4 separate regions of the Homo sapiens genome follow, and all the other regions are linked to region 1. The links come from fine-mapping of genetic effects on gene expression. A gene starts in region 1. Each other region holds a variant in brackets. All regions are shown on one strand. Distances are from middle to middle. Region 1 holds the start of SLC6A12 (solute carrier family 6 member 12). Region 2 holds the start of IQSEC3-AS1 (IQSEC3 antisense RNA 1). Region 3 overlaps IQSEC3 (IQ motif and Sec7 domain ArfGEF 3). Region 4 overlaps IQSEC3 (IQ motif and Sec7 domain ArfGEF 3).

What was found. PIP is the estimated chance that this variant, and not a neighbour inherited with it, causes the effect. A credible set is the group of variants that fine-mapping cannot tell apart.
Region 2: its variant is the best candidate, but not a certain one, in a credible set for the expression of SLC6A12 in whole blood (INTERVAL, PIP 0.63).
Region 3: its variant is the best candidate, but not a certain one, in a credible set for the expression of SLC6A12 in ileum (GTEx, PIP 0.56).
Region 4: its variant is the best candidate, but not a certain one, in a credible set for the expression of SLC6A12 in whole blood (INTERVAL, PIP 0.65).

What each region holds. Positions count from the first base shown.
Region 1 is chr12:211,144-219,227 of GRCh38, forward strand. It overlaps SLC6A12 (solute carrier family 6 member 12), which reads right to left and starts at 3,014. Exons shown (of 16, transcript NM_001122848.3): 1 at 2,779-3,014; 2 at 883-967. RefSeq lists enhancers at 579-1,351, 1,363-1,412, 2,124-2,895.
Region 2 is chr12:179,855-187,953 of GRCh38, forward strand. IQSEC3-AS1 (IQSEC3 antisense RNA 1) reads right to left here and starts at 2,554. Exons shown (of 3, transcript NR_183431.1): 1 at 2,214-2,554. It also overlaps a transcript of SLC6A12 not described here. RefSeq lists an enhancer at 2,133-2,634 and a silencer at 5,399-5,589. The variant A/G (reference allele first, on the strand shown) is at 4,606.
Region 3 is chr12:123,197-131,295 of GRCh38, forward strand. It overlaps IQSEC3 (IQ motif and Sec7 domain ArfGEF 3), which reads left to right. Exons shown (of 14, transcript NM_001170738.2): 3 at 2,437-2,716. Among named protein-coding and RNA genes, the nearest start is that of IQSEC3-AS2, 15 kb to the left of the region's middle. The variant T/C (reference allele first, on the strand shown) is at 5,042.
Region 4 is chr12:151,469-159,567 of GRCh38, forward strand. It overlaps IQSEC3 (IQ motif and Sec7 domain ArfGEF 3), which reads left to right. Exons shown (of 14, transcript NM_001170738.2): 6 at 5,557-5,679; 7 at 6,060-6,226. Among named protein-coding and RNA genes, the nearest start is that of IQSEC3-AS3, 6.3 kb to the left of the region's middle. RefSeq lists an enhancer at 1,568-2,482. The variant G/T (reference allele first, on the strand shown) is at 3,162.

The DNA.
Region 1 (8,084 bases):
GTATTGAGGGAATCAAAGCGACCAGGTCTACCAAGTGCCCCACGCTCCTCCAAGGCTCTAGAGAAACAGGGATTCTTTTTATTAAGGAAGAGTCTGTGTTTATTTACTGGTCCTTTTAACCCAGGCAACAGCCCAAGCCCAAGTCAGTTAGAAAGGCGTGGGCAGGAGCCATTTGAGGTAATGGAAATTTTTGAAGGTGACTTGGAGGGTGCAGGTTATCCCAGGAATGGGAAAGCATGTCAGAGTGAAATTCTGGTATTGGGACCTACTCAGAGCCTTCCACTGTAAGCTCAGCCCAGGAGGGAGGATGAGGATAGCCACCCAGTGGGAATCAGAGGCCTTGAGTCTCTGTTATGAGGGAGAAGGCAGGGGAAAAGAGGGAGGAAAGAGAGCCTCTGGGTTCAGAGTATGTGATCAGACCCATGGGGGCCTTGAGCACTGGAGCCTGGGGATGAAAAAATGGGGAGTTGGGCCCCAGGGGAGAAGTTGGTAACATCTGAACCCAAATGTGGATGTTGCTACAGAATTAGGAATGAGGCACCCTGAGAAATGACCCTGGAATCATCACCAAATAAATTAACAAACTAGTGAGCGAGCTTGAAAACACGCATGAAAATGCACCAGATAGGAAACCCAAGTTCTAATCCAGATCTAGCTGTTAATGATAATAACAACAGGTTGACATCTGAGTCAGCAGTATGTTAAAGACAGGCACTCTTTCTACGTATTATTGAAGTGCATCCTCCTAAGAATCTCTGAAGTTAGGTGTCACTATTAGCTCCACTTTATGTGTGAGGAAGTGAAGCTCCAAGAGATTAAGGAACAGTGCCTGGCACCTGCAGCGCCTGGGGGACACTGTTCTCAATGCTAGAATACACTTACCAAGACAATGAGTCGTGGAGCTGGGTCTCTAACTTGCTGTGTGACCTCAGGCAAATCACACCCCCTCTCTGAACTCTAAGTTTCCCTGGAAGAGAGAAAGACCACTGCTCAAAGGGGTTTTCGGAGGGTGAGGGGATAAAAACAAGACTCAATAAAGAGACGGAGAACTGACCGCCTCTACTCGCGGGCCATAGCGTTGCTAATCCCAGGGCGAGCCCCAAGCACAAGGGCCCTTAGGGCGGTGGTCAGAAATGAGCCTTACTGTTTCCAGACCACAGGCAGCTGTGGCAGGACCAAGGTGGTCTCAAGGGCTGGGAGAGTGGAGGCTTGCTGGGGGAAGGAGTAAATGAAGGGAAAGCCGGAGGGGCGCAGGGGCAGGGAAGCGAATCACAGAATCCAGTTTGGGCCCAGGATTTGGGTTTCATCAGAAATAGGGGAAGTGCAAAAAGAGAACATGAGCTGGTGAACCGACACTGACGCAACATGATTTTTTAAAAATAAAAATGAAAATAAAAAAGTAATCGGGAGGAGCGTAACTTGTGGTTCAGAATGAAAATCCAGAACGGCAGAATGAAAGCAAGAGCAAGTGAAAAGGACAGCTGGCCCCGAGCCGTGGTAACTCAAGAGGGAACACGCTTAAACTGCAGCAAGAGGGATTTAAGTTAGACTCAGGGAAGAAATGGCCCAGAGGATGTTAGACACCAAAACAAGCTGTACTGAGTTCTCCTTTCTGGGCTACTTTTAAAAGGCAAAGGACTACACACCCCACCCCCGCTGTGCCCTTCCACCTCCAGCTTCGGCTGGCCGCCTCTCCAGCCCCTCGAGTCTCCTCCAAGGCCGCCCACCTGCTTTGCTAAGCCGGGACAGGGGGGTGAGGGGTGGGGGATGGGCCTCATCATACTTCAGTGCCCTCCAGAAGCAAACACACCAATTTCCACACCGGGCTTGGTGCTGCCCAGAGAGCAAATCTTCAAGAGACTAGAAAGTCCAAAGTTAAGTCTGTTTTCAGGAGCTGGGCATGTCGCCAGAGGCCCAGCTGGGGCTAGCAGAGGTGCAGACGAGACCAGAAATGCTGCTGCCCATGTGCTGCTGGGATCCCAGCTCTGTCCCCTTTGCTCCCCAGTCCAGCATAGGAATAGCTCAGACCCTGCACACGGGGGGATGGGACACCCAGCCCCTGCTTCAGTCCACACCCACATACCAACACCCATTCCCATACACACACTGGTGCCATTTCCCGTCACGTCCCTTCGCACACACATACCTGTGTGCATGGCACCAAAACCTGGCTCTCTCTGTAGTCCTTCACACCCCGTGAGTGCCGGTCTCAGCTGGTGGCTGCCTGCAACTCCCCTGAGTGCCCCCCTCGGGTACAAGCACACCCATAGCATCCACCGCCCAAAGCCAAGACAGCTTCCTCCTGGGAGGCGCCTGGCACCCAGCTCGTCACGCTCAGCCGGCAGGCAGCGGGCAGGAACCCCTCACCTGTGATCATTTATTGCAGTTCCTGGGCCCTCGGGAATGCCCCGAGGTTTCTCCTGTCCACTTCTCCTTCCACCTTGCTGGGCACCACCTGCTTCCCCTCCCCTCGTCAGATGACCACCCCTGCTTTCACCCACTGCCGTGACCAGCTGCCCATCGCTGGACTTTCCTGCTCCACAGGCTAATCACTGAGCTGCTCCCACGCTGGATGGGGCGGAGCTAGGGGGCACCCCTTGTCCTGAGAGTCGTGGGCATCAGACTTGCCCTTTGGCCTGAGGTTATTGCAGGTCCTGCCCCCCGCTGCAGACACGCAGTTCCACAGAGTCTCGCTTCCCAGGGCTCTATCCCTCCAGCCCCTCTGAGCAGCAGTTGGAGACTGCAAAGACAGAGCCAGCCCCTCCACTTCCCGCTCACCTCAGTCCCCAGCACCGGCTCCTGTGGTCAGCTTGGCTGTGGGCATCAGGTCTCCAGGAGAGTCCCAAGGCAGCTGCTTATGGGAAAGCCAAGAGAGCCGGGACCTGAAAGGGAAACTGCCCTCCACGTTCACGCCTTACCCTGTTCCTCCCAGCGCAGAATCCCATGTGACTTGTCCAGGGACTCCCAGACAGAAAGAAGCCGTGTGTGTATGTGTTGGGGCGGGGGCTGTGTGTGTTGGGGAGTGAAAGGACAGAGAAATACCAGGAGCAGCAGGAGGGACTGAGGCCAAAAGTTTGTGAACCGAGATTACAACATCCAACCTCAGGAAGTCAAGTCCTCTGTCCCCAGCGCTCCCACCCCCATCCCACTCCCACTGTGAACCCACTGTCTCCAGACCGGTGCCCTCCCCGTGGGCACAGTCCCATGATGGCCCCTCCAGAGCTGGGCTGAGCTGCTGCTCCCTTGGGCAGGGGAAGGGGCTCAGAGACTCACACCCTGACCTCATCTCCCCTCCTCCTCCTCCTTGCCCTTCCCCCTTCCCCCTTTTCCCCTATCCCCCTCCAGAACCATCTCCTTCCCAGGGATGAGGAGACGGGTATGTGCAGCACAGGGGACAGCCCTCTCTTACCAGAGACTCCAGGCTATAAACTGAGAACCTTGGGAGGGGAGGTGACCTCACTGACGAGGGCAAGGGAGGAGGGTGAATCACACGCTGGAGTTTTCCACCAAGTACCTGCCCTCTGTGGCTTCTAGGCAAGGCCCTGGACCTTCACAACCCTTCTCCTTGGGATTTTCCTAGAGAAAGCACCCAGAGCGTACCTCAAGAAGCAATGTAGAGAGGACCCAGGATTGGGACCAGACAGACCTGAGTTTCTTCTCCTCCTCTATCATGTATCAGTCACGACAGCTAGGCAAGGGTCAGCCTTGGTTTCCCAGTCTGTCAAAGGTAGGTAACAACACAATATCTACTTTGCGGGGTTGCTGTGAGGGTGCAGGGATATCATAGGTGCTTAAGGGGAGGTGTGGGTGTTTGTTGTGTGTCCTCTGGAAGCAGAGGCTGGGATGGTGGGGTGTCTGGTCCCAGGCACCTCTGGTCACTGCATAGCACCAGGCACCTAGCTAGAATTTGTCTGGAGTGGCCTGCCAGCTATCAATGGGGAAGGGTATTTTTTGAATACATGTGCCCTATGCCGTGTGCCCAGTGAGCTCCTCCAGAACAGCGTCCTGGTCACTGTCCCTGAGCACGCCCACCTGGTGTGGGGTACAGCACTGTCCCACCGCCCTTCATTCAGAATAGCTGGTGCCTCCTTCAAGACAAAGGAGGTGCTTCTTCAGCTCTAGGTGGTATGAAGGGAGAGGAAGTTGCAGGGAGAAAGGGAAATTTCCTTTTACATGTGCTTCCTCTGTGTATTTTAGAACTTCCCAGCAGGGGTGGGGTGTGAAGTGAGACTCTCAGTCTGTAGTTTTCCATCAAGCACCCCCACGATATGTCTCTCGGGCCCCTCTCAGCCTCTCCTGTGGGGTTCCACATGAAGAGGAAGGCAGAGCAGGTCTCAGCTCTCAGACCCATTGCCTCTATGAAAGCAGAAGCCGGGCTGGGGGTCAGCTGTGGCACAGTAGGACATGGCCCAGCCAGAATCCATACTTGAGCTACCCCGGTGCTCAGGTGTGGCCTGTCCCTGCATGTCAGGTCCACCATGGATTGACCACAGAGTTATTGCAGAGGGGACATCAAAGTCCATGTGATCACCTAGCTACAGCTACTCCAGAACAAAACACCAGCCTCTCCATAAAAAGGAGAAAGAGGGGAGAGGATCAGACAAGCCAAGATGGTGAATTTCCTTGTTGGTTCCCTCAAAAATTATATTTAGCACATACAGTGTGACATGCTTTCTGTGAGGATGAACAGCAACAGCCCAGCAGTCCTGTCACCTCTCCTTCACCTTGTCAGAGAACAGCTGCCTGGTTGACCTGGCCCAGGGGGTACAGTTTGACTTTCCCCCAAAAGAGCTACCTGGTCCCTCCCTGTTTTTATCTGACTGCCTCTGGCCTTAGTCCCACCATCTTAATGTTGAGCCCTTCCTCACTCAAGTTTTCCTAGCCTCCAAGACCCACTTGGTATTCAGACCAGTTAGTAAACTTCTGGAGGCCAGAGACTCTCTAATGTTGAGCCCTTCCTCACTCAAGTTCTCCTAGCCTCCAAGACCCACTTGGTATTCAGACCAGTTAGTAAACTTCTGGAGGCCAGAGACTCTCTAATGTTGAGCCCTTCCTCACTCAAGTTCTCCTAGCCTCCAAGACCCACTTGGTATTCAGACTGGTTAGTAAACTTCTGGAGGCCAGAGACTCTCTAATGTTGAGCCCTTCCTCACTCAAGTTCTCCTAGCCTCCAAGACCCACTTGGTGTTCAGACCGGTTAGTAAACCCCTGGAGGCCAGAGACTCTCTAATGTTGAGCCCTTCCTCACTCAAGTTCTCCTAGCCTCCAAGACCCACTTGGTATTCAGACCAGTTAGTAAACTTCTGGAGGCCAGAGACTCTCTAATGTTGAGCCCTTCCTCACTCAAGTTCTCCTAGCCTCCAAGACCCACTTGGTGTTCAGACTGGTTAGTAAACCCCTGGAGGCCAGAGACTCTCTAATGTTGAGCCCTTCCTCACTCAAGTTCTCCTAGCCTCCAAGACCCACTTGGTATTCAGACTGGTTAGTAAACTCCTGGAGGCCAGAGACTCTCATCTTTGCAAAAGGTAGGCATCCTGGAAAGCCTAGCTGAGACTGGGCTGTTTCCACACTGAGGAGTGTGCAGGGTGAAGACGACAGGTAGCTGAATGAATCTATCACCTTTGCTGCAGTAGGAACCACTGGCCACCACAGAATGTTCTCACCACCCTCATCTTCTAATCTCATCCATACTTTCAGAGGGCCTGGAATAGGACTTATTTCCTGAGCATCTAACTCGGACGAGGAGTTTTACATGTTACTTCATTTCATCCCCTTAAGAACTTTGAAATGTAAAAATTATTAGCCCCATTTTACAGACGGGAAACTGGGGTGAATAAATAGAAGCTAAGTGATTTGTCCTAAGGCCACACACAAGTAAGTGATGGTGCTGGGATTTGAACCTGGGCCTCTTGGCTCCAAAAATCTATGCTTGTTCCACTGAAGCATACTGTTCCCCTGACCATGAATATCTATATGTCAGGGGTCTCATTTCATAATTCTTTATTTCTGCCTCTAGCATTTAATACAATTCTGCCTCAGAATAGGCACTCAGTGTTCATTGGATGGAGGATGGATGGATGGATGGATGGATGGACAGATGGATGGATGGATGGATGGATGGATGGATGGATGGACAGACGGATGGATGGACAGATGGATGGACGGATGGATGGATGGATGGATGGATGGATGGATGGATGGATGGACAGACGGATGGATGGATGGACAGACGGATGGATGGATGGATGGATGGAGGATGGACGGATGGATGGATGAACGAGTGGATGAATGGAACTTGAAGGGGGAAAAATGATTACAGTTTTCCCTTTTCTGGGAGGACATTGTTTCCCCAGAATCAGAGGGCTCAGATGACTCAGGTCCTGCTTATCTTGGACAGTACTGCTCTGTGTTGTCACTTGGTGAAGAGTGTGGAGTAGCACCCTCAGGCCACAGGACCAGGATTATTTTAGGACTACGTCTTCCTTGCCTTCTAGTGAAAATGCTTAGCTCGGCCGGACGCGGTGGCTCACGCCTGTAATCCCAGCACTTTGGGAGGCCGAGGCGGGCAGATCACAAGGTCAGGAGATCGAGACCATCCTGGCTAACACGGTGAAACCCCATCTCTACTAAAAAATAGAAAAAATCAGCTGGGCGTGTTGGTGGGCACCTGTAGTCCCAGCTACTCGGGAGGCTGAGGCAGGAGAATGGCGTGAACCCGGGAGGCGGAGCTTGCAGTGAGCTGAGATGGTGCCGCTGCACTCCAGCCCGGGCGACAGAGCGAGACTCCGTCTCAAAAAAAAAAAAAATGCTTAGCTCAATAAATGTGTAGCCTCCTTCCTGGAGCCCAGTGCAACCTAGTCTGAGACTGGGGACAGCAAGGATATCTCTAAACTCTTCCTGAACTTTTCTGTGATGCTGACAGTCCGATGTGGTGGGGCTGCAGCTATGGGAAATAGGATGGGTTTGACTGAATGTGTCCCCAGGGCAGCTGTCCCTATAGCATCTGCTGGACTCTAACAACACTGATGTAAGTAGCAGTATTCCTGTTTTATGGAAGAGAAAACTAAGGATCAGAGAGGTTAGCTTGCCTAAGGTCACACAGTTAGTAAGTCAAAGGGCCAGGATCCAAGCCAGGCCTGCAAGCCCCTCTACAGGAGAATGCTCAGCTGGCTGTGGCGTCTCTGAGTTTGTGCACATGTGCACATGTCTCTGAGGATAAGGAGGGGCTGGTGCCTGCATGCCTGTGTGTGGATCTGAGACCTGGGTGTTCATGTGGGCAAGGTCTGAGGCCCCGCGCAGCCTGGTGGGCTCAGTGCCTAACAAGCTGCTTTCCCGCAGCCCTGGGCATAGTCTGTAACTCTCCCGCCACCTCTGCTTCTGCTCTCCCTGTTCAACTTGCCCCCAGGCTCTCACTGCTTGCCTTTCCTCTCTAACAGGTGTGGCCTCCAGACAAGAGAGGGCTCCCTTCCTTTTGGGTCTTCTTCTCTGGGAACTCTAAGATATAGCGCCCACCCCTCCAGGCTAGGGAAGCAGGTCACTGACTCGGCTGCCCTACACCCCCCCATCCCCACCCCCACCCCCGTCGCTTCAGCCCCTCTGGCTAAGGCCGAGGTACTCCTTCCTTCCTTCCCTCAACCCTGACCCCGACCCAAGCCAGCAGCATTCTCATCTCTCTGCCTGCCAGTCCCACCTGCGCTGTTAGAGCCTCACCCCCTCAGCCACCTCCCTCCAGTTTGATGACCTCACACCACGTGTCACCAAGTGACGGAAAGGACCCTCACACCCATTACCTCCTTTGAGCCCTACGACAAGCCCTGCTTGGAGAAGGAGTGCGTGGCGTTTTCTGCAACTGCGAAGCAAAGAACCTGAATTCCAAGTGACTGCACAGACACGCAGCAAGTTCTGGAAGCACACCTCCGGGTTCTTACACCAATAGGTGACTCTCACACCGTGTTCCACCATCAGGAAGCTCCTCGATGCGACTCAGATCACATCTGGGTCCCACATTCCCGCTGAGGCCGGCAGTTCCGGCAACTTTGGTCATACGGATGGAGACAGGTATTATAACCTTAGAACCCAACCTG
Region 2 (8,099 bases), 31 kb before region 1:
CCCTCCAGTGAGAGGGAGACCATCCTGTTCTGATAGAGCCCGTCTGGTGGTCCAGGCCCCTCTGTGCCTATCTGCCGTAGGGATGGAGAGCTACAGTCCGTGCATCTCCCTCCATAATGACCCTTTGTAGATGGGAGAATGTCAGACTCATCAGTCATAGACTTAGAATGCTCCCAGTAAGGGGTCCCAGGATGTACTGGTTTCTGGCTGAGAGCAGTGACCCAGAGCTAGTGCTGGAAATCAGGGTGAACTGAACCGTAAGTTTGAGACCACCTGCTGAGCACTGTTTCAGGTGCTGGGGGCTATGCAGTGAAGGGGACAGGGAAAGTTCACACTGGGGGGTGTCATCAACAAGAAATGGAGCAGCTGCCTTCACACAGAGGATGGTGACCCCGCTGGGGTGATGGGGAGAGCCTGTTTTAGGGTGAACATTCAAGGAAGGCCTCTCCAAGGAGGAGAATTCAACAAGGTCAAGGTCTGGTCTGAGGGCAGGTGAACAGTTCGGAGACCATCACTTCAAGTCAAATGACCACATATTTATGAGGCAGAAACCAAGACAGTTTGTCAAAAAACTGTTTCCTGATATATGTGTTTACTTACATGAAAAAATCTTATGAATTAAGTGTAAACATGAATTCAAAACATCTTTACTGAGGAAAGCAAAATTGGTCTTCTAGCAAATCCAGGGCAGACGGTCACCAGTCACAGGCCAGGAGAGGAAGTGCTTGAGAGTGAGCAGTCAGGCGCTCTGGACAGGCAAGGATGGGGCCGGGGGTGGGGCAGAGCTTAGGCCACGTGGGCAGCCACCACCACAGGAAGACCAGGCCACCGAAGTAGACCGCAGAAAGCACAAACCAGCAACAGTGAAGTCAGGCTACCCTGAGCCGAGGCAGCTGCTGCCCAGAGCAAGCACGTGCTTGTGTGACCCTGCATAGGGATGGGGAGCAGCCCACTCCAGGTCAAGGCAGCCTGCTGTCCACCTCCTCCTCTGTCACCTCAAACCAAGAGGGCTCAGGTTTGCCATTTTCAAATTTTTCCTGTATTTATGTTTCAAAGAAGGGGCCTTGGTCTGTCGCCCAGGCTGGAGTGCACTGGTACGATCACAGCTTACTGCAGCCTGCAACTCCTGGGCTGAAAGGACCCTGCCGCCTCAGCCTCCCAAGTAGCCCAGACTACAGGTGCATGTCGCCACGCCCTGCTGATTTTTAAATTACTATTATTATTTTTGTAGAGATGAGGGTCTCTCTCCAGCCTGGCCAACATGGTGAAACCCCGTCTCTACTAAAAATGCAAAAATTAGCCAGGCATGGTGGCGTGAGCCCATAATCACAGCTACTTGGGAGGCTGAGGCATGAGAATCGCTTGAACTTGGGGGGCGGAGGTTGCAGTGACCCGGAATCATGCCACTGCACTGCAGCCTGGGCGACAGAGCGAGACTCTGTCTCAAAATAAATAAATAAATAAAATAAAAAGACAGGCTGTCTCTCTATATTGCCCAGGTTAGTCTTGAATTCCTGGGTTCAAGGGATCCTGTCTCCTCAGCCTCCCCAGTAAACTGAGACTGCAGGTGTGCACCACTATGCCTGAATAATTTTTGTTTGTCTTTGTAGAGACGGAGTCTCACTACGTTGCCCAGGCTGGTCTCAAACTCCTGGCCTCAAGGGATCCACCCACCTCGGCCTAGGCTTGCCATTTTTAAATAATGGAATGGACTCCATGGCCTATTGCACAGCAGTCCCAAGGAGTCCAGGGGCTAACAGCCTTTCACGTCTCAGCGTGAACCCCACAGAACGGAAGTGAGATTGATTTCTCCTTCAGGGGGCTGGCACTACATGGCTGCGGCCCTCGGCATGCCCCCTCCCATCCCAGCTCTGACAGATGTGGCCAATTGATCACTGCTTTCTGGGAGTCACCATCAATCACATGTGCTGACTCCAGGATGAAAGAACTTGCCAACCGCCCCGTGGTGTCCTCATGGAGACACCTGGAAGGAAGGCATTTTGACGGGAGGTAGCTTAGAGCAGGGGGCAGCAGGCGGGAGGTGTGGCCCTCCTAGTGCCACTGCTCTCAGGTCACTTGCGGACAGCAGCTCTGGGGGTGCTGGCTTTGGCTCCTTAGCTCTGCCGCTCAGGGACTCAGGGCTGCTTCCTGCCAGGACTCCTCACTACTCAGCAACCGGTCGACTACCCTGTGCACCAGGTCCCCTCACTCACCTTCCTCGGGGTGAGCCACATGGCCCCCGGTGTCACAGATGAAGGTCTGAAGACGCCCAGGCAAGAAGGACGCTCCGTCCAGGGCGGAGCCTTGGGAGCAAAGGCAGACCCCGTGGAGGGCAAGGGAGGTGGTCCTTCCAGGAGAACGTGAGGCCCAGCCAGCGCCCAGCGGCCTGGAGCCGCAGGCTGAGTTCTGATCTGCTCCCCTTCCCGTCCCAGGACGGCAGCCAGGCCCCAAGATAGACCAAGCCCAGGTCAGAGTCAGGGAGGTTAAATGAGGGCGCAGGAATGGGGGGTGCAGAGGGACAGGTCCAGAAGTGGTTCTGCCAGAATTCCCTTCTGGATGGGCTGGAGGAGAGGGAGCTGGAGCTCAGCGGGTGGGCGGAGTGCTCTCCTCCCCTGCGCCCTCCCTCCCGTGCCCCTGCAGGGCTGCACGGGTTCCCTCCCTAGGGAACCAGGCTGCCTAACCCACCAGCCGGCCCCTAGCACCTCAGCGCTTCCTGCTCCCATGACCCTAAGGACTAAGTGACCTCAAGCCTGGCTCTGGGAAAACTGTGGGAACCGGCTGCTGGGAAGACGACCTGGCTGTTACTCCCACGTTTCCAACTGCCTAGACAGACCTGCCCTGCCCTCCTTTCCTCAAGAAACCCTAATCCCCTTTCCTTCTGAGACATCTAGGGTAGGAGTCAGCCTCCCTCCCTGCACCCTCAGAGGGAATGGAAGGCAGGGGAGTCATACAGCAGTGCCAGGCCTGCAGGCTGAGTCACAGGCCAGTCATCCTTCTATGGCTAAGGGGACTACTTCACTTAAGAGGTTAAAAAAGAAGAACAGAATAAGCCCAAAGGAAAGAAACAATAAAGACAAAAGCAGAAGTAATAAAATAGAAAATATATATACAATAGAAAAGATTAACACAACCAAAAGTTAGTTCTAAGAAATGACTAATAAAGTTGACAAACCTCTGATAAGACTGATCACGAAGAAGAGAGACGGCACAAATGAATAACCTGAGGACCAACAGGGAGAACGTAACTATGAATGCTGCAGAGATTTTCAAAATAAAATACTTCAAATAAACTATAAACCTATGGCAATAATTTTGAAACCCTCCACAAAATGAACACTGTGCTAGAAAAATATCTTACCAAATCTTGCTCAAGAACAAACAGAAAATTTGGGATGTATAACCATTAAATTAAAGTGGAATAGGTAATTACAAGTCTTAGGGCCAGGAATCCCAGCACTTCGGGAGACCAAGGCAGGAGGATCACTTGAAGCCAGGAGTTCAAGACCAGCCTGGGCAACATAGTGAGACCCCCATCTATACACAGATCTTAAAAATAAGCTAGGCATGGTGGTATGCAACTGTAATCCCAGCTATTCGAAGGCTGAGGTAGGCAGATCACTTGGGCCCAGGAGGTTGAGGCTGCAGTGAACCGTGACTGCACCACTGAACTCCAACCTGGGCAACAGAGGGAGACCCTATTTCAAAAGAAAAAAAAAAGAAAGAAAAAGAGGGCCAGGTATGGTGGCTGACGCCTGTAATCCCAGCACTTTGGGAGCCCAAGGTGGGCAGATCACTTGAGTTCAGGGGTTCGAGACCAGCCTGAGCAACGTCGTGAAATCTCGTCTCTACCAAAAATACAAAAAATTAATGTCACTCCAGCCTGGGTGACAGAGTGAGACTCTGTCTCAAAAAAAATAAAAAAGAAGGAAAGTCTATTCACCATCGCCCAGCCCCCACCCCCAAGAAAAATCACACACACAACACCCGGCCAGATGATTTTACAAAATTCTACTACACTTCAAGGAACAGATAATTCCAATATCATATTAACTCTTTCAGAAAAGAGAAACAGAACATCTCCAAACTCCTTTTCATGAGCCTGGTGTAATCTCAAAAACAAAAACTAAAGCAGACAAGCACGGTATGAGAAAAAGAAGACTACCAACCAATCTTGTTTATGGGCATAAATTCAGAAATTCTAAACACAATATTAGCAAACTGAACCTAGTACTGAATAACAAAAAAAAATATGCCATAACCAAGTAGGGTTTGCCCCAAGAATGAACAGATGATTGAATATTAGAAAAATATAATAATTTGTTACATTAACAAATTAAAGGAGAAAAACAATATAATTATCTCAATAGATGCAGAAAAAGCAATCCATAAAATTCAACCCTTACTGTTGATTTGAAAAAAACCTATAGAACTTGGAATGGAAGAAAACTTCATAGCCCAGTAAATGATATCTATCAAAAATCATCAGCTGGCCAGGCATGGTGGCTCACACCTGTAATCCCAGCACTTTGGGAGGCCGAGGTGGGTGGATCACTTGAGATCAGGAGTTCGAGACCAGTCTGGCCAACATGGCAAAACCTCATCTCT[A/G]CTAAAAACACAAAAATTCGGTGGTTCATGCCTGTAATCCCAGCACTTTGGGAGGCCGAGGCGGGCGGATCACGAGGTCAGGAGATCGAGACCATCCTGGCTAACACGGTGAAACCCCATCTCTACTAAAAATACAAAAAATTAGCCGGGCGTGGTGGCGGGCGCCTGTAGTCCCAGCTACTCGGGAGGCTGAGGCAGGAGAATGGCGTGAACCCGGGAGGCGGAGCTTGCAATGAGCTGAGATGGCGCCACTGCACTCTAGCCTGGGCGACAGAGCAAGACTCCGTCTCAAAAATAAATAAATAAAAAAATAAAAATACAAAAATTAGCCAAGCATGGTGGCTTATGCCTGTAATCCAGCTACTGGGGAGGATGAGGCAGGAGAATCACTTGAACCCAGGAGGCAGAGGTTGTAGTGAGCTGAGATCAAGCCACTGCGCTCCAGCCTGGGGGACAGAATGAAACTGTCTCAAAAAAAAAAAAAAATCATCAGCCGTCATACTTCCTAATGAAATGTTAGGGTTCCTGTCAAAACCAGGAAGGAAGCAAGGATGCCAGCTGCCACCACTTCTAGTTACCAAGTGAAGGAAGATAAGAGAAAGAATCATGATCGGAGACATAAAACTGTCATTATTTCCAGACAGTCTGAGTGTCTATGTAAAACACCCTAAAGAACCAAGAGGAAAACAACAACTTTAATTAACCCAGAGGAAAAGGCTGAGGCTGGACAGTGAGCCCAGGTCTCCGGACAGCTGGCCGGGTAAGGCCGCTCCCCCGGCCCCACCCGCTGTCATGGCTACCCTCTGTCCTGCTCCCCGGAACCTCCTCTCCATGACAAACCCAAATTCCAAATGCACTTGTTCAGGACCCACTCTGGCTACCTTTGCTTGCTCCCTGTGCCCGTGTCTTAGTGAGATGGGGACTGAGTCCTGCTTGGGGAAGGGACTTGCCCACTTCGAGTCCCTCATGCTGGGGTGCAGTGTCAGAGTTCTGGCCTCGGGGCCAGGGCCTTTTGGATGTGACAGCCACCCTCTGTGTGTTAGTGAGATGTGCTTGGGCAGAAAAAGCCTCAGAATGTGACTGCACCAGAAGTTCCGGCTAGACTCTTGTTATAGCCACAGGTTATGCACTGACCCTGTGGATGGACACGAGCCTGCAAGGACTCAGCCTTGGCAGGGAGCAAGCTCCCCTCTCTGTCTGTGGCATCATCTGGCAACTTGCACTCGCCTCCCGTTACTTCCCAGTCACGTGCCAGCAGGTTCCTCAGACCTGACAGGCCATCTGCCCCTGCTGTGGCCAGACTGGAAGCAGAGAGCGCTGGAGTGCGGGTCGCCAGGGCCCAGGGCACTGACCCACCTCAACCCTGTGCCACCTGCCAGGCTTGGCTCTCATCTCACCCCATCCTGTCTGGCAAACACATCCTCCCATGGCCGCTGCATCAATGGGTGGTTAACAAGCTTCTCATCCCTGTTAGATCCAATCAGCCCTTGTTACTTCACTGAGCAGCAGAACCTGCAAGGAAGCTGGGCATGCGAGCACGGAGGTGGCAGGGACAGACACAGCCAGTCTTCACCTCCTCACAGCAAGGACAGGGTGAGCCCAGGGTCAGGGGAGGGCTCTGGAGGGGTCAGAGGAGGTGAGGCTGTGGCAGAGAGGCAGGAGGCTCAGGCAGAAGGGCACGAGGGGGCTGAGGGACGCCTCTGAAGAGGGGCCACGCCTGACTCTCAAAGAGGGTGACTCTCGCGCTCTGGGAAGTGGCCACGACAGCACCCACAGGCCACAGTGCACGCTAAAGCTCAGCTGTCCAGGAGCACACTTGACCCAACAGAGAGCCCACATGAGAGGAGCCGAGGCCTTCCACCGGCAGCCACAGCAGCTGTCAGCCAGGTGAAGGAACTGCAAGCAATTGGATCCAAGGATAGGTATTATCTACTGCTGTGTAAAAAATCACCCCAAAGCTTACGGCTTAAAACAACCATATGCATTTCTCACCTCTCACTGGGGTCAGGCATTTGGGGCCCACTTGGCTGGGCATTTCTGGCTCAGTGCCTCTGTAAGGCTGTAGTCCCTGTGTCAGCCAGGGCTGCTGCCACTAGAAGCCTTGGCCAGCTGGGAGGATACATTTCCACGCAGTGTATTCACCTTGCAGCAAGCTGCTGCTGTTGACCATTAGTGGGAGGCCTGGATTCCACGTGGGCCTCTCTATTGGGCCAACTGTCCCCCCAGACAATTAAGCTTTGGTGTACTCTGCCACGTGGGCGCTGCTGATGTTAACACATCTATTGAGATGTAGCTCTGAAATTAGAGGTATCCACTACCCTTCTTCGGGAGAATGTCCAGGTGGGAGAGAGACTTGACCCAGGATTCATGGATGAATAGCATCATAGGGTGTGAGGTCCACACCGGAGCAGGCTGGAGCCTGTGGTAACCCTGCTACCACCACCCCTTCTGAGGCACCAGGACCCCCAACCACTGCCCTCTGCTGTCCCTTGCGTCGCACCCAAGGGCTCCTGTTCCCTCCCCTGCCCAAAGTTCTCACTTTCTCCGCTAGGGCACAGATTATGAATTCAAACGCAAAAGCGAATATGTGAGAAAACCAGGTGTGACAGAAGTGGGAAGACTGTGGCAAACTCCAGCATGCCTCAGGGCTTCTGCTGCAAAAATCAATTTTTTCATGCCACACTGGCCAAATTGTAGCTGCCAGATTTGGCCTCTGTTCACCAGTCTGCAACTCAAACACCAAAGGAAACGAGATGAAAGTGTGCCCAGAGTAAGTGGGTTCTTGGTCTCACTGACTTCAAGCATGAAGCCGCAGACCCTCACAGTGAGGGTTACAGTTCTTAAAGGCGGCGTGTCCGGAGTTTGTTCCTTCTAACGTTCAGATGTGTTCGGAGTTTTTTCCTTCTGGTAGGTTCGTGGTCTCACCAGCTCCGGAGTGAAACTGCGGACCTTCGCGATGAGTGCTACAACTCTGAAGGCGGCGCGTCTGGAGTTTTTTTTTCCTCCCGATGGTTCAGTGGTCTCGCTGGTTTCAGAAGTAAACCTGCAGATTTTCCCAATGAGTGTTACACCTCATAAAGGCAGAGTAGACCCAAACAGTGAGCAGCAGCAAGATTTACTGCAAAAGAGCAAAAAAAAAAAAAAAAAAAAAAAAAAAAAAAAAAAAAAAAAACAAACCACACACACAGCACCCACTGCACACAACGCGACCCCAGCGGGTTACCACTAGGGCCTCCGGCAGCCTGCTTTTATTCTCTTACCTGGCCCCACCCACATCCTGCTGATTGGTCCATTTTACAGAGAGCCGATTGGTCCATTTTACAGAGCGCTGATTGGTCCGTTTTGACAGGGTTTTGATTGGTGTGTTTACAACGCCTGAGCTAGACACAAAGGTTCTCCAAGTCCCCACCAGAGAAGCTAGATACAGAGTGTGGATTGGTGCATTCACAAACCCTGAGCTAGACACAGGGTGCTGATTGGTGTGTTTACAAACC
Region 3 (8,099 bases), 88 kb before region 1:
GAGTTCAAGACTAGACTGGGCAACATAGTGGGACCCTGTCTCTACAAAAAAAATTTAAAAATTTGCCCGGTATGGTGGTGCGTACCCACCTGTAGCCCGGTGTGGTGGTGCGTACCCACCTGGAGTCCCAGGTACTCAGTAGGCTGAGGTGGGAGGATTGCTTGATCCCAGGAGGTTGAGGCTGCAGTGAGCTGTGATTGAGCCACTGCACTCCAGCCTGGGTGAGTGAGACACTGGCTCAAAAATAAATAAATAATAATTTTAAAAAAGACATCTAGAGCTATATTGAGCCATGCAGCTTGATTGGTGGCCACAGAAGAAATGGTGGACATAGAAAAAGGCAGCAGCAATGAAGATTTTTCACGGCCAGGGCCAGCCAGCAAGCACTCCTTTATCTGCCAGAGGTGCAGGAGAGTGCTGGGAGGGCAGATGGAGATTGAGAGAAGGGAGATTCTCAACCCCACCCTTGGCTGGGAGGAAGCACCAGGAGGAACACCTCTCTGCACCCTAAGGTCCAGTGGAAGCCGCAGGAAGAGGTCCCTCCTCTGGTGTCATTTGGCCCATCTTTCATGGTGGCAAAGTCTTGGAAGACATAAGTCCTTAGGTTGCAGCTGTCCTGCACCAGGGCCACCCCACCACCCTGGGCCCCTGTTCCTCATTTATAAAAATGGGGAGGTTGGGAGGCTGCATTAGATGACCTTGAGGTCCCTTCCAGTCCTGATTTTCTGTCACTGTCCACTGTAGAGCCATCCCCGTGGCCCCTGGGTTCTCCTCAGTTCACCATCAACAAGTGTTGACTAAGCACTCAGCATTTGCCCAGCATGAAGGGGCTGGGGGACGTAATGAAATAACACATAGGCCCTGGCTTCTAGGAAGGGATAGCTGGGGAAATAAGAGTTTATTTACTGGGCCGGGCACAGTGGCTCACACCTGTAATCCTAGCGCTTTGGGAGGCTGAGGCGGGTGGATCACCTGAGGTCAGGAGTTCGAGACCAGCCTGGCTGACATGGTGAAACCCTGTCTCTGCTAAAAATACAAAAAAATTAGCTGGGCGTGGTGGTGCATGCCTGTAATCCCAGCCACTCGGGAAGCTGAGGCAGGAGAATCACTTGAATCCAGGAGGTGGAGGTTGCAGTGAGCCAAGATCTCACCATTGCACTCCAGCCTGGGCAACAAGAGTGAAACTCCATCTCAAAAAAAAAAAAAAAAGAAAAGAAAAAGAAAGTTTATTTACTGAGCACATACTCTGTGCTAAGCACCTGACCTCTGCTGCCTCCTTTCTTCCTCACTGTAACCTCCTAAGGTAGGAACTAGGACCTCCTAAGGTAGGAATTAGGACAAGGGAACCAAGACTCAGAGGAAAAGCCAGTTGCCCAAAGCCACACAGTCGTAGAGCTTGAATTTGAGGCCATGGTGTTAACCACGATGACTCTCCTCCTCTGGGAAATAGACAGTGACTCTCTAAGGACAGCTCCTAGTGTTCCAGGAGACACAGCAGTGAAAGCTGCAGTCGTCCAGGAAGGCCTCATGGAGGAGGTGGCTTAGCACTGGGCCTCAAGGGAGGGGCAGAACTTGGAGGCTAGTGGGGAAGGAAGCAATCTGAGGGAACCAACTCTACAAAGCAGGCTGGACCATGTCTGCTCCAGGCAGCAAGGTGTCTTCTTAGAGTAGGCAGGAGGGCTGCAGCCATGGCTCAGCCTGCTGTGGCTCCCGGGGAACAGAGGATGGGTCAGGGAGGAGCAGGTGTTTTCTAAACCCAGCAGGGCAGGAAGCCTCCTCTTCACAGCCGCAGCCCCCACACCTGGAGTCCACCCCCCTGGAAAGGCTTATGCCCAAGCCAGGCCAGGCACCCTGCCTCCTCCAGACTCATTTGGTCAGTCTAAAGATGAGCTGGCTTAGTGTAGATCAGCTTCCCCAGCCACCTGAGCCTGTGCCCAAGGAGCCGGGCCACCGATACTTACAATAGGTAACACATGTAGCAGTCACCATGACTCAGGCACAGCTTAAAGAGTTGTAAGTAACTTCAGCCGCCAGTATCCCTGTGAGGTAGGTACTGTTACTGTGCCCATTTTATAGATGGAGAAACAGAGGTGCAATGAGGCTGAGTGACCTGCTCAGGGTCACACAGCTCGTAAGAGGCAGAGCCCAGATGCACCGCTCTGCCATACTGCTTCTAAGCAGAGGCTCCTGAGCCCTGGCCATAGCTGCCCCTTCCCTCTGTCTGAGCTGCCTCCCCAGGTGCGGGTTCTTCTCCGTGCCCAGGGCTCATCCCTGCCATGGTAGCCCCTCCCTAGAGGAGACTGTGAAAGACACCCCCTCCAGTCCTTGCCACAGGAAAGGCAGGCCAGAGTGCCTAGCTTCTCTCCCCGACCCCCACATCCACACGCACCCTGTCGCCCTCTCCCCCAACCGAGCACCGTTGCCTTCTGTTCACAGTGATGGCTCCTGCACCCAGGCCGGTGGGGGCATGGAGGACTCCGTGGTGGCAGCGGCGGCGGTGGCAGCCGGCAGACCCAGTGCCCATGCCCCGAAGGCTCAAGCCCAGGAGCTGCAGGAGGAGGAGGAGCGGCCGGGGGCAGGGGCTGCCTCCCCAAGGGCTGGCCCCCAGCACAAGGCCTCCCCCGGCCGGCAGCAGCCTGCCCTGGCGACGGCGCTGTGCCCCCACGCCCCTGCCGCCTCCGATTACGAACTCTCCCTTGACCTAAAGAATAAACAGGTACCCAGGGCCTCCTAGGGGGGCGGGGAGGGTGGTGAAGGGGCCCTGCTTTGGGGGCTGTCGAGGGTACCAGGGATATCCCCGCTGGGTCCCCTCCGCTACAGGCACACCTCTTTTGCCACAGTTCTCCTGCATTGAGCGACCTAGTTTGCCCTTCCCTGGACCAGCCACAGGCCTCTGCCTTCTACCATGGCAGGGCTCATACCCTCGCAATGCCAGGCCCTTGGGCAGCACGTCCAGGGGCTCTGCTCCTCACACAGTGCTCAGCAAGCCTCCACCGCCCCACTGACCACTAGGCAAGGAGCCCACTGTTCTCTGGGGTGTCCCCACCTCCATCTGCTGCTTAGAGGCCATAGTCCAGCTTCCACGCCCACCAAGGGAGCCGGTGTTAGGCACCCACAGGCACAAACGAGGCACAAAGACAATGGTCTCCTCGAAGCAGACAGGATTCCCAAGATCAGTCCAGACTGGGGGAGTCCAAAGCTCCTCTATTGGAGAACAGATTCCATGGAGGGGCCTGGGCCTCCATTTTCCATTCAGGAAGAGAAAGTGGCCAATTGTGGGGCCCCCATTGAACCCCCAAAAAAGATAATGCCTCAGTTTGTCTTGGCAGACAAGAGTCTTGATGGAAGGTGTGTGTGTGTGTGTGTGTGTGTGTGTGCGCTTAGAGAAAGGTGTGATGGTGTGATACTGTTAAGGAAAGAGCTTTGAACTTGGAGATGTAGACATGGGATCCAGTCCTCGCTCTTCCTCCTATGAACTCAGTGACTTTGGGAGTTGCCAGTTAAACCCTCTGGGCATTCGTTTCCTCATCTGCAAAAAAATGAGAATTAACTTTGAATCACCTCCAAGGTCCCTTCTGCCCCAAAATGTGTAGGTTCTAGAGAACAATTCTTCAACCCAATAGGCAAGGTATCTTCAGAAAGGAAGCTAGTGGGAAGGCCACTAAGACTGAGTCAAGCCAAACTAACCTCCTTCCTCTCTTGGCATTGATGCCAAGCTCATATCCTGGCTCAGGCCAGCTGTAGGCAGCACATCAGTAAAGTGTTTGACCAAATCCCCCAAGATACCCTATGTGCACATGCCAGGAATGTGTGGATTACTAACAATATAGTAAGGAGGGTTGTTCTCAAACCGAATTATCCAAAAAATATTCATCAAAAAAAATCCCAGGGAGTTGAGTGGACATGCTGTCCAGGTCACTGATAAGGCACCAATTTGAGGCATACAAGTTACATTCACCTGGCTTTCTGATGACATAAAGCTGAAAGAGAACAGCTGATACCTTGGTGATAGCATCCCAGACTTTGTAAAAACCTCATCAGGGGCCAGGCGTGGTGGCTCATACCTGTAATCCCAGCACTTTGGGAGGCCAAGGCGGGTGGATCACGAGGCCAGGAGTTTGAGACCAGCCCGCCCAATATGGTGAAACCCTGTCTGTACTAAAAATACAAAAATTAGCCAGGCGTGGTGGCGCATGCCTGTAATCCCAGCTACTCAGGAGGCTGAGGCAGAATTCCTTGAATGCGGGAGGCGGAGGTTGCAGTGAGCCAAGATTGCACCACAGCACTCCAGCCTGGGCGACAGAGTGAGACTCTGTCTCAAAACAAAACAAAACAAAACAAAAAACACCTCATCAGGACAGAAGGATGGTTTTAATGAAAAAAAAAAAGTCGGATGAAATGTGGAAAAATCTAAAATTCTGCTCCCAGCTTCGAAAACCCCACAGCACTAGCATAAGACATTCAGGCCCTTCGCCCACTTTTTGAGAAGTGTCTGTTCATGTCCTTTGCCCACTTTTTGATGGGGTTGTTTGTTTTTTTCTTGTAAATTTGTTTGAGTTCATTGTAGATTCTGGATATTAGCCCTTTGTCAGATGAGTAGGTTGCGAAAATTTTCTCCCATTTTGTAGGTTGCCTGTTCACTCTGATGGTAGTTTCTTTTGCTGTGCAGGAGCTCTTTAGTTTAATTAGATCCCATTTGTCAACTTTGGCTTTTGTTGAACATGGCACACATCTATAGGAGACTGAACTCGACTCCTCTCTCTTCTGCCATGAGCTGTATGGCCTTGGGCAAGTTGCTTGACTTCTCTGGCCTCAGCTGCCTCCTATGTCTGGGACTTCACAGGCTCTTCCCTTGGCCTCAATCTCTGAAGTTTCCGCTCCCCTCCACACCCCTGCACTTGGCCTTCTCTTGCTTTAGTACTTGCTTTAGGTACCTCTTCCTCCTCTCAGGCAGTTTTCCCTGCCTCCCAAGCCTGCACTGGGTGTCCCTCTCAGTCATCCCACAGGGCCCGGGTGTCCCCGTCACAGCCCTTCAGCCCTG[T/C]GTCAGCATTTCCTGTTTGCTTGACCCCCTCCTTGAAGGCAGGTGCATGACTTGTTCCTCATTATATTCTCAGTGCTTAATGCAGTGCCTGGCGAAGAAGCTGCTGGAAGGATAAGAGACGGGAAATGATCACTTAGTGACATAAAGGGGGATGGGATGGGTATACAGCATGGCGCCAGGAACTGACTCTGCCTTAGGTCTCTTTGAGATCTAACACTTGATATTCCAACCCAGTGATTCCGCCAGCCACACTGAATCCCGTGTTCCATGGCCTGGGAGGGGTGTTGGACAATCTTAGCTCCCCAGCCCACCGACCCGCCAAGCCTCCTCTGTCAGCCAGTCCAGATCCCCAGGACGGTTTTCCTTGGCTGTTCTCCTTCCTTCGCCTCTGCTCTAGCCCCAAGCCCCACTGATGCTGCCTCTTAACAGTTCCCGAATCCCACCCTCTCTTGCCTTCCCCAGTGCCCCTGCCCCAGGAGGCCAGGCCATCCTTCCTCTTGCCTGCACGCCGGGAGACCTCCTGTGCTTCCCCTTCTTTGAGCTCTGTCCCTTCCAACCTCACCTCCACATTGCAGCTGAATCATCTTCCTAAAGTGCACCTCTGACCGCGCTGATCCTCGGGAAAGCCTCTGATGGCTCCTCACGGTGTGCAGGACAGAGGCCTCTCCAGGCTCCCTGCCACAGTCCCAGCCCCATGGGGGTTCCAGCCGTTCCTATTTGCTGTCCCGAATCTCAAGCCACCCTCACCTCTGGGCTTTTGTGTGGCTTTGTTTCCTCTCCTGGGGATTCTCCTCACCTGTCCCCGACCCCATCTGCTGCATCTGGAAGACTTCTGCTCATACTTCAGGTCGCAGCCGAGGCACGTGCTTTTACCCATTGCCTGTTGCCTCCTCTGTGCTGTCTGGGAGTGGGAGCTGTTCCGCTCAACAGCATGGACCATGTTGTTCTCAGGGCTGTGTGGAGTTGAGCAGGTGGTGCTCGGGACACCTCCAGGGTGCTGCATAGCCCACGTGAAGAGCCAGCGCTCCTGGAGCTGTGCCCTGGGAACTGTCCTGTCCTTGCCCATCTTTGCCGCCCTGCACCTTGCACAGTCTTGGGCACCTAGGAACTGCTCAGCAGGGAAGGAACATAGGAATGAAGGCACAAGTGAATGAGCAAACGAGGCCTACCCTCCAGCTTCCTGTTCTCCCTGCTGGCCCCTTCCCCAGCACCTGTCACAAGTCGCACAGCAAGACGGTCCTCCTGCCAGCTCTTCTCCCCTTCTCCCTCTGCCTTCGACCCTCTCACCCCACCCCAGCAGTCCTGGGGGATACAACCTAGGGCAGGCCAAGGAGTGAGCATGCAGGTCCCTTTGGGGAGCCCTTTAGGAATAGAGGGCCTAGGTGTCATTTTGAAATTCCTCCAAGCCCTCTAGGGAGTTTGTGTCCTGTTGCAGAGCGACTGGAGCCCTTCTTAGCCATCTGAATTGCAGAGCCCTCTGGGCTGCTCAGGCCAGAGGGCTGTGGAGTTGCAGTCAGTAGAATCTGGGCCCTGCTCCCCGAGCCGGGTCCTGGACAGAAGCCATGTTCTGCTGGAGAGCAGCCCCTCCCCACAGATCCCCATACCCCAAGCCTCAGGGTCCAGCCTCACTATGGGGCACCTCTTCAGGAAGATGTGGTGGCTATGTTTCTAAGTCACTTTCCCTCTTTGCATCTTGGTTTCCTCATGTGTGAACCAAAGGCTGTACCAGAGGGCCTCCTGGCCCCTTCCCACGCTGAAAGTGAGATTTCTACCATGGGCACAGAGAGCACCAGGGCACCAGCCTACAGAGGACAGTGGTGAGGACAGGGCACTCCATGGGTTGTCCCTCTCCCCGGTTCATTCAGTTCAGGGAACAGCACTGCACAGCTGCTCTGTCGCAGGCCCTGTGCTAGGCCTGGAGATGCTATGATGCAAAAGATACAGGCCTAGTCATCAGGGTGCCCACAGCCCAGTGGTGGGCAGACACGGGGCCAGCACCAGTGTTACTACCTGAGCACTAGCTCTGTGTCAGGCCCAGGCTAACGGTTGCCATGTGTTATCTCCCCGGGTCTGCACAACGTCCCCGTGAGATTGGCACCATTACCGTCCCATTTCTGGAATGGGAAGATTAAGGCTGAGTGATGGTGATGTTAAGTAACTTGCCCAAGGACACAGTCCTAGGAAGTAATGCAGCCAAGACATGGACTCCGCAGCCCATGGTTTCGACCCTGTACCTTCCACCATCTCTTGGCATTACAGTGAGGAACAGGCCCCATGGAAGTGGCACACAGGGTCTGTGGAGCATGAGGAGGGCAGGCAGCCCAACCTGGGATCAGAGCCAGCTCCTGGGGCAGCCCCACTGGAGGGTCTCATGACCTCACTACTAGCTGAGCCATAGCGTGTCCCCCATGCCTACCTGGCTGCCCACTCCCAGGCAGGCCTCAACGCCCTGCGTGTCAAGCACTTGCTGTATTCCAGACAGCAGGCTGGGAGGAGGGCACACAGAGCAGGCATGAGTCCCCTGCCTTGCAGGAGGCCACAGCCCTGCCCAGCACAGACCCAAGGCTCCTGTGGGCCTCTCTGAACACCCCCAAAGCACCAGCTTCCCCAGTCTCTCTGCTCCTCAGCCTCACACCCGGGCTCGCCAGGCCAAGTTCTGGAGGCTCACAACATGCTGTGCTTTCATGGTCTCAACTGGGAAGTCTTGGATGGGAACAAACCCTTGGAAGCCCCCCACACCTCCCCGCGATCCTCAGCACTGTGCCCCCCAGCTAGCGGCTCTTCCTCCCCACACCTGGCCCCCGCTCCTCAGCACTGTGCCCCCCAGCTAGCGGCTCTTCCTCCCCACCCTCTGGCTTGGCCGCCATCTTTCAGCGGCCTCTTCAGGCTCAGCTGCCACAGCAACCTGAAAGAAGGGGGCACGTTCTAATTAACACTGAGAGGCTCATTAGAGAGACGGAGGCCCCCGCGCCCCTGCCGCTGCTTCTTCTGGCAGAAGCTGAGAAATTGCTCTCTTGGCAGGGGGCGAGGCCATCATTCCTCCTGGTTCCTGGGGTTT
Region 4 (8,099 bases), 60 kb before region 1:
CCTTAGCCCAAGCCCCATTATCTGTAGCTTGGACCTCTGCAGTAGCATCCTAACTGGGCCCCTGCTTCTGTCTTCTTCCCTGCCCCTCTGCCATTCATTTTCTCTCCAACAGCCAGGGAAATCTTCTTAGAACAAACAGGACCCTGTCGCTCCTCTGATCATACCCTCTATTGTGTCCCAGTGCATTCAGGATAAACTCCCAAATCCTTCTCATGACCCACAAAGCTGACAGACTGAGCCCTGGCTGCTGCCCCACAGTCACCATTCTCCCTGTTACTGTCTGCACTGCAACCTTGCGGACCCTGCCTAGGTCCTTGAAGCTCCTCCCTGCCGTGAGCCTTTGCATATGCTTCCTCCCTTAGCCCACCTGACAGCTCTCCCCTCTCTCCTTCCTTTGGCCACCTCCTACTCATCTTTCAGGCCTCAGCTCAAATGCCATGTCCCCAAAGAGTCCTTTCCAGACATACAATATAAAATATATCTCCTTTGTCCTCTCCTGGAACCGTCGTTTCCCTACATAGAACTCATCATGACTATAGGTAAAGAATTATTTTTGACTCTGTGTTCAATGCCTGTCTCTCCCACCAAGACAGAGACTGTGTTGCTGGCCACTTACACCAGGTCCCGAGCACAGCCTTGCACACGGGGCCACTCAGTGCTCGTTGCTGAAAGAGTCAACCAGCCACTGCCACAGGGCACAAAAAGCACCAGAAAGGGGAAGGCAGGAGGTCAGCGATATGGACCCTGCTGTGGGCTCCAGGTGCCCAGGCCAGCTCTGAACCTGCAGGGTGACCACAGAGCCCCCGTGCTGACTGCCCACGCATGCACCAAGAGGCTCTCCTGTGTAACTGTGTCCACGGGCTTCTCCTTGGCCTCTCACAGGTCCCCACCAAGCCATCTGGGTAAGATCACAGCCCCTAGGAAGACATGCATTAGTGCCAGCCACTGAGCAGCAGAGAGCCAGGGAGAGGTGAGGGAGAGGAGGGCACAGGGGACCACCTGCCCCAGGAGATGTCAGCAAGGAATGAGATGTGTGCAGCACGCCTGTAGGGCTGGCTGTCTAGTGTACTTCAGTCTCATATGTAATAAAAACATAATGGTACAATGGTTCATATTGCACAAGCTTGAGAAGATGAGGTCATTGCACACATAGTGAAGCACTTAGAGCCATACTCAGTACAGAGAGCTCAGAGGGAACTCCCCCGACTTGAGTAAGGGACCTCCCTGCCACCCCACACACACACAGGAGTGAAGAGAAGAGAGCCCAGTGGGGCAGGGAGAGGCCTCACAAGATTAGGAAGCTGAAAGCCTGCTCTCCCTAGCTGTGGGAGCATGGGGCCAGCCCTACGTGGCATTAGTTTTGTCTTCTGTAAAATGGGGAGATGATACACCAGAAAAGACCACCCGGGAATGTGTGGTGCTCTTTACCTTAAAGATGACCAATGAGGAGAGATGACTCCAGGCCACCCTGGGTGGAGGCTGCAGCATGGATTTGGTAAACTGCCCACACTCAGCTCCCCAAGAGGATTCCAGGGCAGCAAAGAAGGCTGGAAAGTGGGAATTAGGAGTGCTGGTAGACACTGCAAAATAAGAGAAGCAGCAGGACAGAGAGTGAGAGAAGGGGAGGGAGCAAAAGAGGGCACGGTGCAAGCAGAAGCTTATGCTCAGGGAGTGAACAGAGGAGGCTCATGCTGTAGAGGGCCGAGGCTTATAGGTGCTTCCAGGGGGACACGGACCCTGGAATGAGCAGGGCTTATGGTAGACAGCACAGTCCCACCCCCAGCCACCTTCCCCAGGATGACACAGGCCCCATCAGGAACGCAAACAGTGATCAGTGATTCCCCCTAGAGGAGGGTGGGGATGAAGCCACCAGCCAGCCAGGAGTGCTGCTGCGGGTCGTCTGCCCCCTGCCGTTGGGAGCGTCTGCAGTGCTTCAGAGATGGCCCGTGCCTCCGGGTGCCAGTCCTGAGAGGTCACCTGGTCCAACCCCCAGCTCTCCAGTGAGGAAGTGCCTTCCTCAGGCAGGAGGGTAGAGTGTCCCACCACTCAGCACAGCTTCCTCCCTTCCAGCTAGGGATTTCACAGCCAGAAAATGTCATTTTTTCCCCCAGGGTCTGAGAAACCCAGAATAGCACCTGTTCATGAAACACAGATACCCTGTGGTGGCAAATGCAGTGAGGGGAGGAAGGCAGGACGGCAGGTGCATAGCCAGGGGAAGAACTACATCTGTTTATGCCTCCATCCACCCCTCCCTCACCACCCCCATGCAAAAGCAGCCCCGATAGCCAGGTGGGGACACATGCCCCTAAGGACGGCTGCCTGGTGGCCTGTGAGTTGCTGGACTCACTTTAAAAGCCGCAGTGAGGCCTACCCTTGCACTCAGCTCAGTCTTTGGTTTCACAATTTAGGAACAACCGGGAGATCTTGCAGAGAATGCTGATTCCCAGGACTTGCCCCCAAATATTCTAATTTGCTGGGTCTGGGGTGGGGTCCAGCGAGCTGCATTTTAACAAACCACCTTATGACTCCGCTGTGGGGTCCTGAGAGCACACACTGGAAGATGTTGGATGAGAGGCCCTTCCAGCTCCACAGCCCAAGTGTCCACCCCTGCAGCCCTCCCCGCTTCGAGGCCCACGAGGGGTGTATTCAACTCCCATTCTGTGGGCCGACTTTTCAACCTGGCTGCTTCCCCCATCCCGGTCCTTGGCTCTCAGGCTCTCAGCTCACTACCGGGGCTTTTAGCAGCAGACTTGAGTGAGTGAACGGCTGCTTGTCACCTGAGTGAAGGGCTGGAAACTAGGCCATCGTGCTTGGCTGGGCAGATGCCACCCTCACCAGCTGCTCCCGCTGCCTCTGCGGCAGCCTGCCCCCACAGTGCCCTGGGCCTCCCAGCACCCCCACCATTGCAGGGTGAGACCTGGTCCATAGCCCTGGGGCAGAAGGCACTCAGAGAGAGGCTCTGGGAGGAACGTGGATGTGGGAAGCCGGGTGCCAGGACCTCAGCGTTCAGAAACAGGGAAGGGGTGGGGTGCACGACAGATGGGGGCAAGTCCTGGGGAGCAGCAGGATGGCACTCAGAGGGACCAAGGGCCGTTCTGGGGCCCTGAGGACCCAGGCCTCTTTCTTGGCCTCATAAGAGTCAGCGCCCCTGGGCTGAGAGG[G/T]TGGCATCTGGCCGCTCCATGCCGCCCCCACCACAGTCCGCGGTGCACTTCACATCTTCATCTCTACCAGACTTCTTCTGTCTCTTCCTCTTCCCCTCCTGTCCCTTCCTCTCCTCGTGCCTCTCTGTCTTTCCGCCTTCCTCCCTGTCTCTGTTTTTTGCTTGTTCTTTATCTCAGTCTCCGGTCTTGCTCCCTTTTTGCGATCTCTCTCCTGCCTTTTCCTCCTTGCCTGTCCCTCCCTTTCTCTCCTTGCTCTCTGTCGAATTAGACTTTCCTTGTCCTTCGCTGCCCCGCCCCATCTCTCTGGCCCACACGCTCTGACCCCCTTGCTGCGTGACCATGCTGGTTCACCTCCTCCAGGCTCTCTCTGTACTCATCGGACCACAGCCTCTTGGTCACCAGCCCTGGACAGTGTCACTGTGTGGCTCTGTTGTGCCCAGTTGCTGACTCCTGATGGGCTGGGCTACAGGAACACACGGATGTGGCCGCATAGGGCCTTTGGCACTCACGTAGGGCTGCAAAGGGTGCAGGGTGGAGGTGAGGAGGGCCACCGGGAAATCAGAGCAGCCTCTCGCCTGGCTGGCTCTGGAGGCCCCTGTTCCCCAGCCGTCAGCTCAACCTCAAATGCCCTGATCCTGGTGCTGCCGATTCTCATGCTTGGGCAAGATGCTGGCCTCCACCCCAGCCCCACCCTCACCTGCCCACTGTCCCGGCCAGCAAGCCTGAGAGGAGTGGGCTTTGACCAAGCCAAGGACAACTCATAGCCTGAAGATGGCCATGGGCCCTGCCTACGGGAGAGAGGCGAAAAGGAAAGAGGAGGAGAGACTCCCAGCTCCCTCTCGGCGCCCCCTCCCTTTCTAAGAGTCTTCGGTGATGCACTTTTCTCCTTGTTCTCCCCAGAAACCTGTGGGAGGCGGAGTCCATGGACCACCAGGCCCTGACCACCTCCACTGTGGCGTCTCCCCTTGTTTTCTCCTAAAAACTGACGGCAGAGTTGGGGGTCTCCAAGTCTTCTAGGCAGTGGGCACGAATGGAAGCTGAGGTCATGGAGGAAGTGGGTCCACCTCAGAGCTCATGTCACCATCACAGGGCCACTCAGCAGGCGTTTTCTGTGCTCTCGATGTGGTGGGCAGGCAGGCCAGGGGACCATGGGAGCAGAGTGGGACTGCTTGCCGGCAGTGGGCAGTGTCAGGGGCAGTGCAGGGGCTGTGCCATAGCCAGTGGGAGGAGACTAGGGTGAGTGGGTGTAGAGTGGGCAAACGTCAGCTCCAAGAGCCCAATCTAACGCGCTTGGTCTGCGTCTCCCAAAGGGAAAGCAATGCCCAGGGGACATTGGGTCCCCTGCTTTTCCAGGCCTGGACTCCTGCCTTGCTGCACATGGCCCTGGGGACAGGGCACCCCAAAGGAGGGTGAGGCAGGGTGAGGGGACTGGGAGGGTTCGGCCTCAGACCCTGCAGTGCAGAGTCCCCTGGATCGGGCTAGACCAGAGGAAGGCGCCTGCTTAGCTGGGGGGAACTGGCATGTGACCCCACACCCCCACCCACACACACTGAAGCTCGGGATGTTCACAGGCAAACCCCCCAGGGTTGGAGGCAGCATTTCAGAGGTAGCAAGGCCCTTGGGGAGCAGGGACTCCAGCCTCCTCCCTTTTCAGAAGGTCACACAGAGGCCCCAGGAGTGAGTGGGCAAGCCAGAGTCACACCAAGTTCGCAGGAGGGCCCAGACCAGAATCTGACCCTGCGTGTCACGCTGTCCCCTCACGTTAGGCACATTTGTCATTTACTCTTAGGCTGTGCCTCCCATCACAGCCTCCCCTGAGGGCTGGGGCAGCTGGGGGGAGCTGGGGCAGCTGTGGGGAGCTGGGGCAGCTGGGGGGAGCTGGGCTGCAGAAAGCCCCAGGGGCTTGAGGGGCTCTGCTCCTAACTGTTCAGCCTACAGCAGAAGGGATCCAACGGAGGACTCAGCCCCCTCAAGACCTAAATGAGAAAGTGAAATTTAAACCTGGGAGAAACACAGGCTCCTAGCGGGTCTCTGAAAGAACAGAAGAATCAATATGTTTACTGTATTATTTATGCTGAAAGCTTTGCTTGGGGTACTCTGAGGTTAAGAAGGAAGGAACTGGGATTTGGAGTTGGAAGATCCGAGTTCAGCCTCCCTCCACCCCTGTGTCCTGGGCCACCAAAGCCTCTCCTGGCCTCAGGGTTTGGGTTCCGAAAGGGCTACTGTGGCAGGTGGGAGGAGATGGTCCTCTTGGGGCATTAAAGGGCGACCCCCGGGGGTGAGTAGCCTGAGGGGCCCTGCACCTGTCCTGGCTGGGAACAGAGGCCAGCGAGAATGGGTGTTGGAGGGTGCTTAGGGTGCCACCTGACCTCACACCCTCCCTGCCTGCCCTCAGCTGCGTGGTGGACGAGATGGACTTCTCCAGCATGGAGCTGGACGAGGCCCTGCGCAAGTTCCAGGCACACATCCGTGTGCAGGGGGAGGCTCAGAAGGTGGAGCGGCTCATTGAGGCCTTCAGGTAAGGCCGCTTCCCAGCTCCACTCCCCAACAGACCCCAGCGTGGGGAAGCCGGGCCGCTGTGAGCCTGGGAGACAGGAGATGCTATCAGGAGGGTTGGACATTGGGCCAGAAACACCCCTTCTGGTGTGGGCAGGAGGATGGCTGGGGAGAAACAAGGGAAGGGAAGAAAAGGGACCGACCCCTCGAGCTCCCCAGGCTGGAAATGTGGGGCATTTGGGGGTGTGGGGAAAAAGACCAGAGTATGGGACAGACACTGGTCTCCCTGGACCTAAAGCCTTCGGAGAGCTGGGATACCCCCTGGACACCCCCTTCCTTTGTTGGGCCCGGGGGAGGGTGGGCGGGGGCTCAGCGTCCGCTCTGCATCTGACCCCCCCACAGCCAGCGCTACTGCATGTGCAACCCCGAAGTGGTTCAGCAGTTCCACAACCCCGACACCATCTTCATCCTCGCCTTCGCCATCATCCTCCTCAACACCGACATGTACAGCCCCAACATCAAGCCTGACCGGAAGATGATGCTGGAGGACTTCATCCGAAACCTTCGAGGTGAGGAGGTGGGCACTGGGGCAGGAGGGGCAAGGCCACGGCTCAGGCCCCATTCTGTGCACCGTGCATTCTGTGAGTCTGAGCCCCTATCACAGATGGTCACCTGCTGTCTGGGCCTGGTCACCCATAGCAAGCTGGGAACATTCCTTGTGAGCCAGGCGGCTGGGGAGTTTCCGGCATGCAGCCTGCCACCGCCACCGCTCTACCAAACAGCAAGCGCCCTTGGGCAGTGCCTCTTGCCCTCCGTGGAACATGGTTGGCCTCTAGGCCCCTGACACCAGAGCTGGCGGCTCAAGTGGTGCCAGCCCTTCCCCTCCACAACTTACAAGGAAGGAGCCAGGAGCAGGGCCCTGGGTCCATTTAAGTCAGCCTTGCAGATAACTGTATGGCACCAGCTGGCAAGTCCTTCTCTCATCGATGCAGCGCACTGCCTGGCAGGGAGCAAACCAGGACTGGCAGAGTGTGATGTGTGCGCAATTGTTTTTTTTTTTTTACCCGTTAAAAGAATCAAAGTTATACATCCACATAATTTAATAAAGTCAAATAATCCTACAAGGCTTATCATAGAAAAAAATTAGTCGCTGCCCCTCTCACCACTCACCTTCTCCAGAGGCAACCACTTTTGACTTTTTTAGCTATTTGCGTTTCTTCTGTATCGATAAACCGCAGGCTTCTGCTTCGCTTTTTTCTATCTCTTTTTTTAACTGGCATAAAGTCCAGACTGTGAGTGTGTAAGCCTGAAGTTTGATGAATGTGTACGGTCACGTGCACTGTGTCATCACACCTGGATCCTGATCTGGATCATTTTCACCTGCCCAGAATGTTCTCTCCTGTCCCGTCCCAGTCAATGCCTTCGCCCAAGAGTAACAACTATTCTGCCTTTTATCACCATTTGACGAGTCCTGCCAGTCCTTGAACTTCATCTAAATAGAGCTATACAGTATTTATACTTTGGTATCTGGTCTCTTTTATACACTGCTCCTTGTTAATTATTATTTCTGTTGCCCAGGCTGGAGTGCAGTGGTGCAGTCTCAGCTCACTGCAACCTCCACCTCCCAGGTTCAAGTAATTCTTATGGCTCAGCCTCCCAAGTAGCCGGGATTACAGGTGTGCACCACCACACCCAGCTAATTTTTATATTTTTAGAACAGATGAGGTTTCACCATGTTGAACAGACTGGTTTTGAACTCCCAACCTCAGGTGATCCGCCTGCCTCAGCCTCCCAAAGTGCTGGGATTACAGGCATGAGCCACCACGCCTGGCCCTTGTTAATTATTTTTATTTTAAGCATGATCTATTAATTCCCCATTATAGAATGTAAGGATTTAGCCCTCTTTCATCCACCTTCCCTGACCCATCCCACTCACGTCAGTGCTCATGTTATTAGGGCTCTGCACACACACTCCAAAGCTGAGTCTGCAAGTGCAGAATGATTGCAACTCCCTTCATCTATACTTTCCTTGGAGTTAATGCTTCTCTTTCCATTTGCTTAACTCTCTGAGGACCTCCCCTGATTCAGCCCCCACTTCCCACCCTACGTATCAAGCTCCTCTCCATATGTCCAGACCTGGGAGGTGGTGCGGGAGAGTCATCTTCCGGGAGCCTCTGGTCCTGCTCCAGTCTGGACAGTGGCTGGGCCAGGGCACAGCCTGCATCCTGGGCCCTCCTTCCCTTGCTCTCATGACAGATTCCTGGTTCCTGCATGTCAGAGCTTCCTCATTTTTAGTTTACTTTCAGAGAAAAGGCCATTTTTGAGAACTTGCATTTCTGAATGTATCTTTTTCTGTCTTTGCCCTTGGTTGGGAGTTTGGCTGGGGATAGAATTCCAGCCTCAAAACACGCCAATCAGGATTTCAAAGGCATTGCTGCTGCA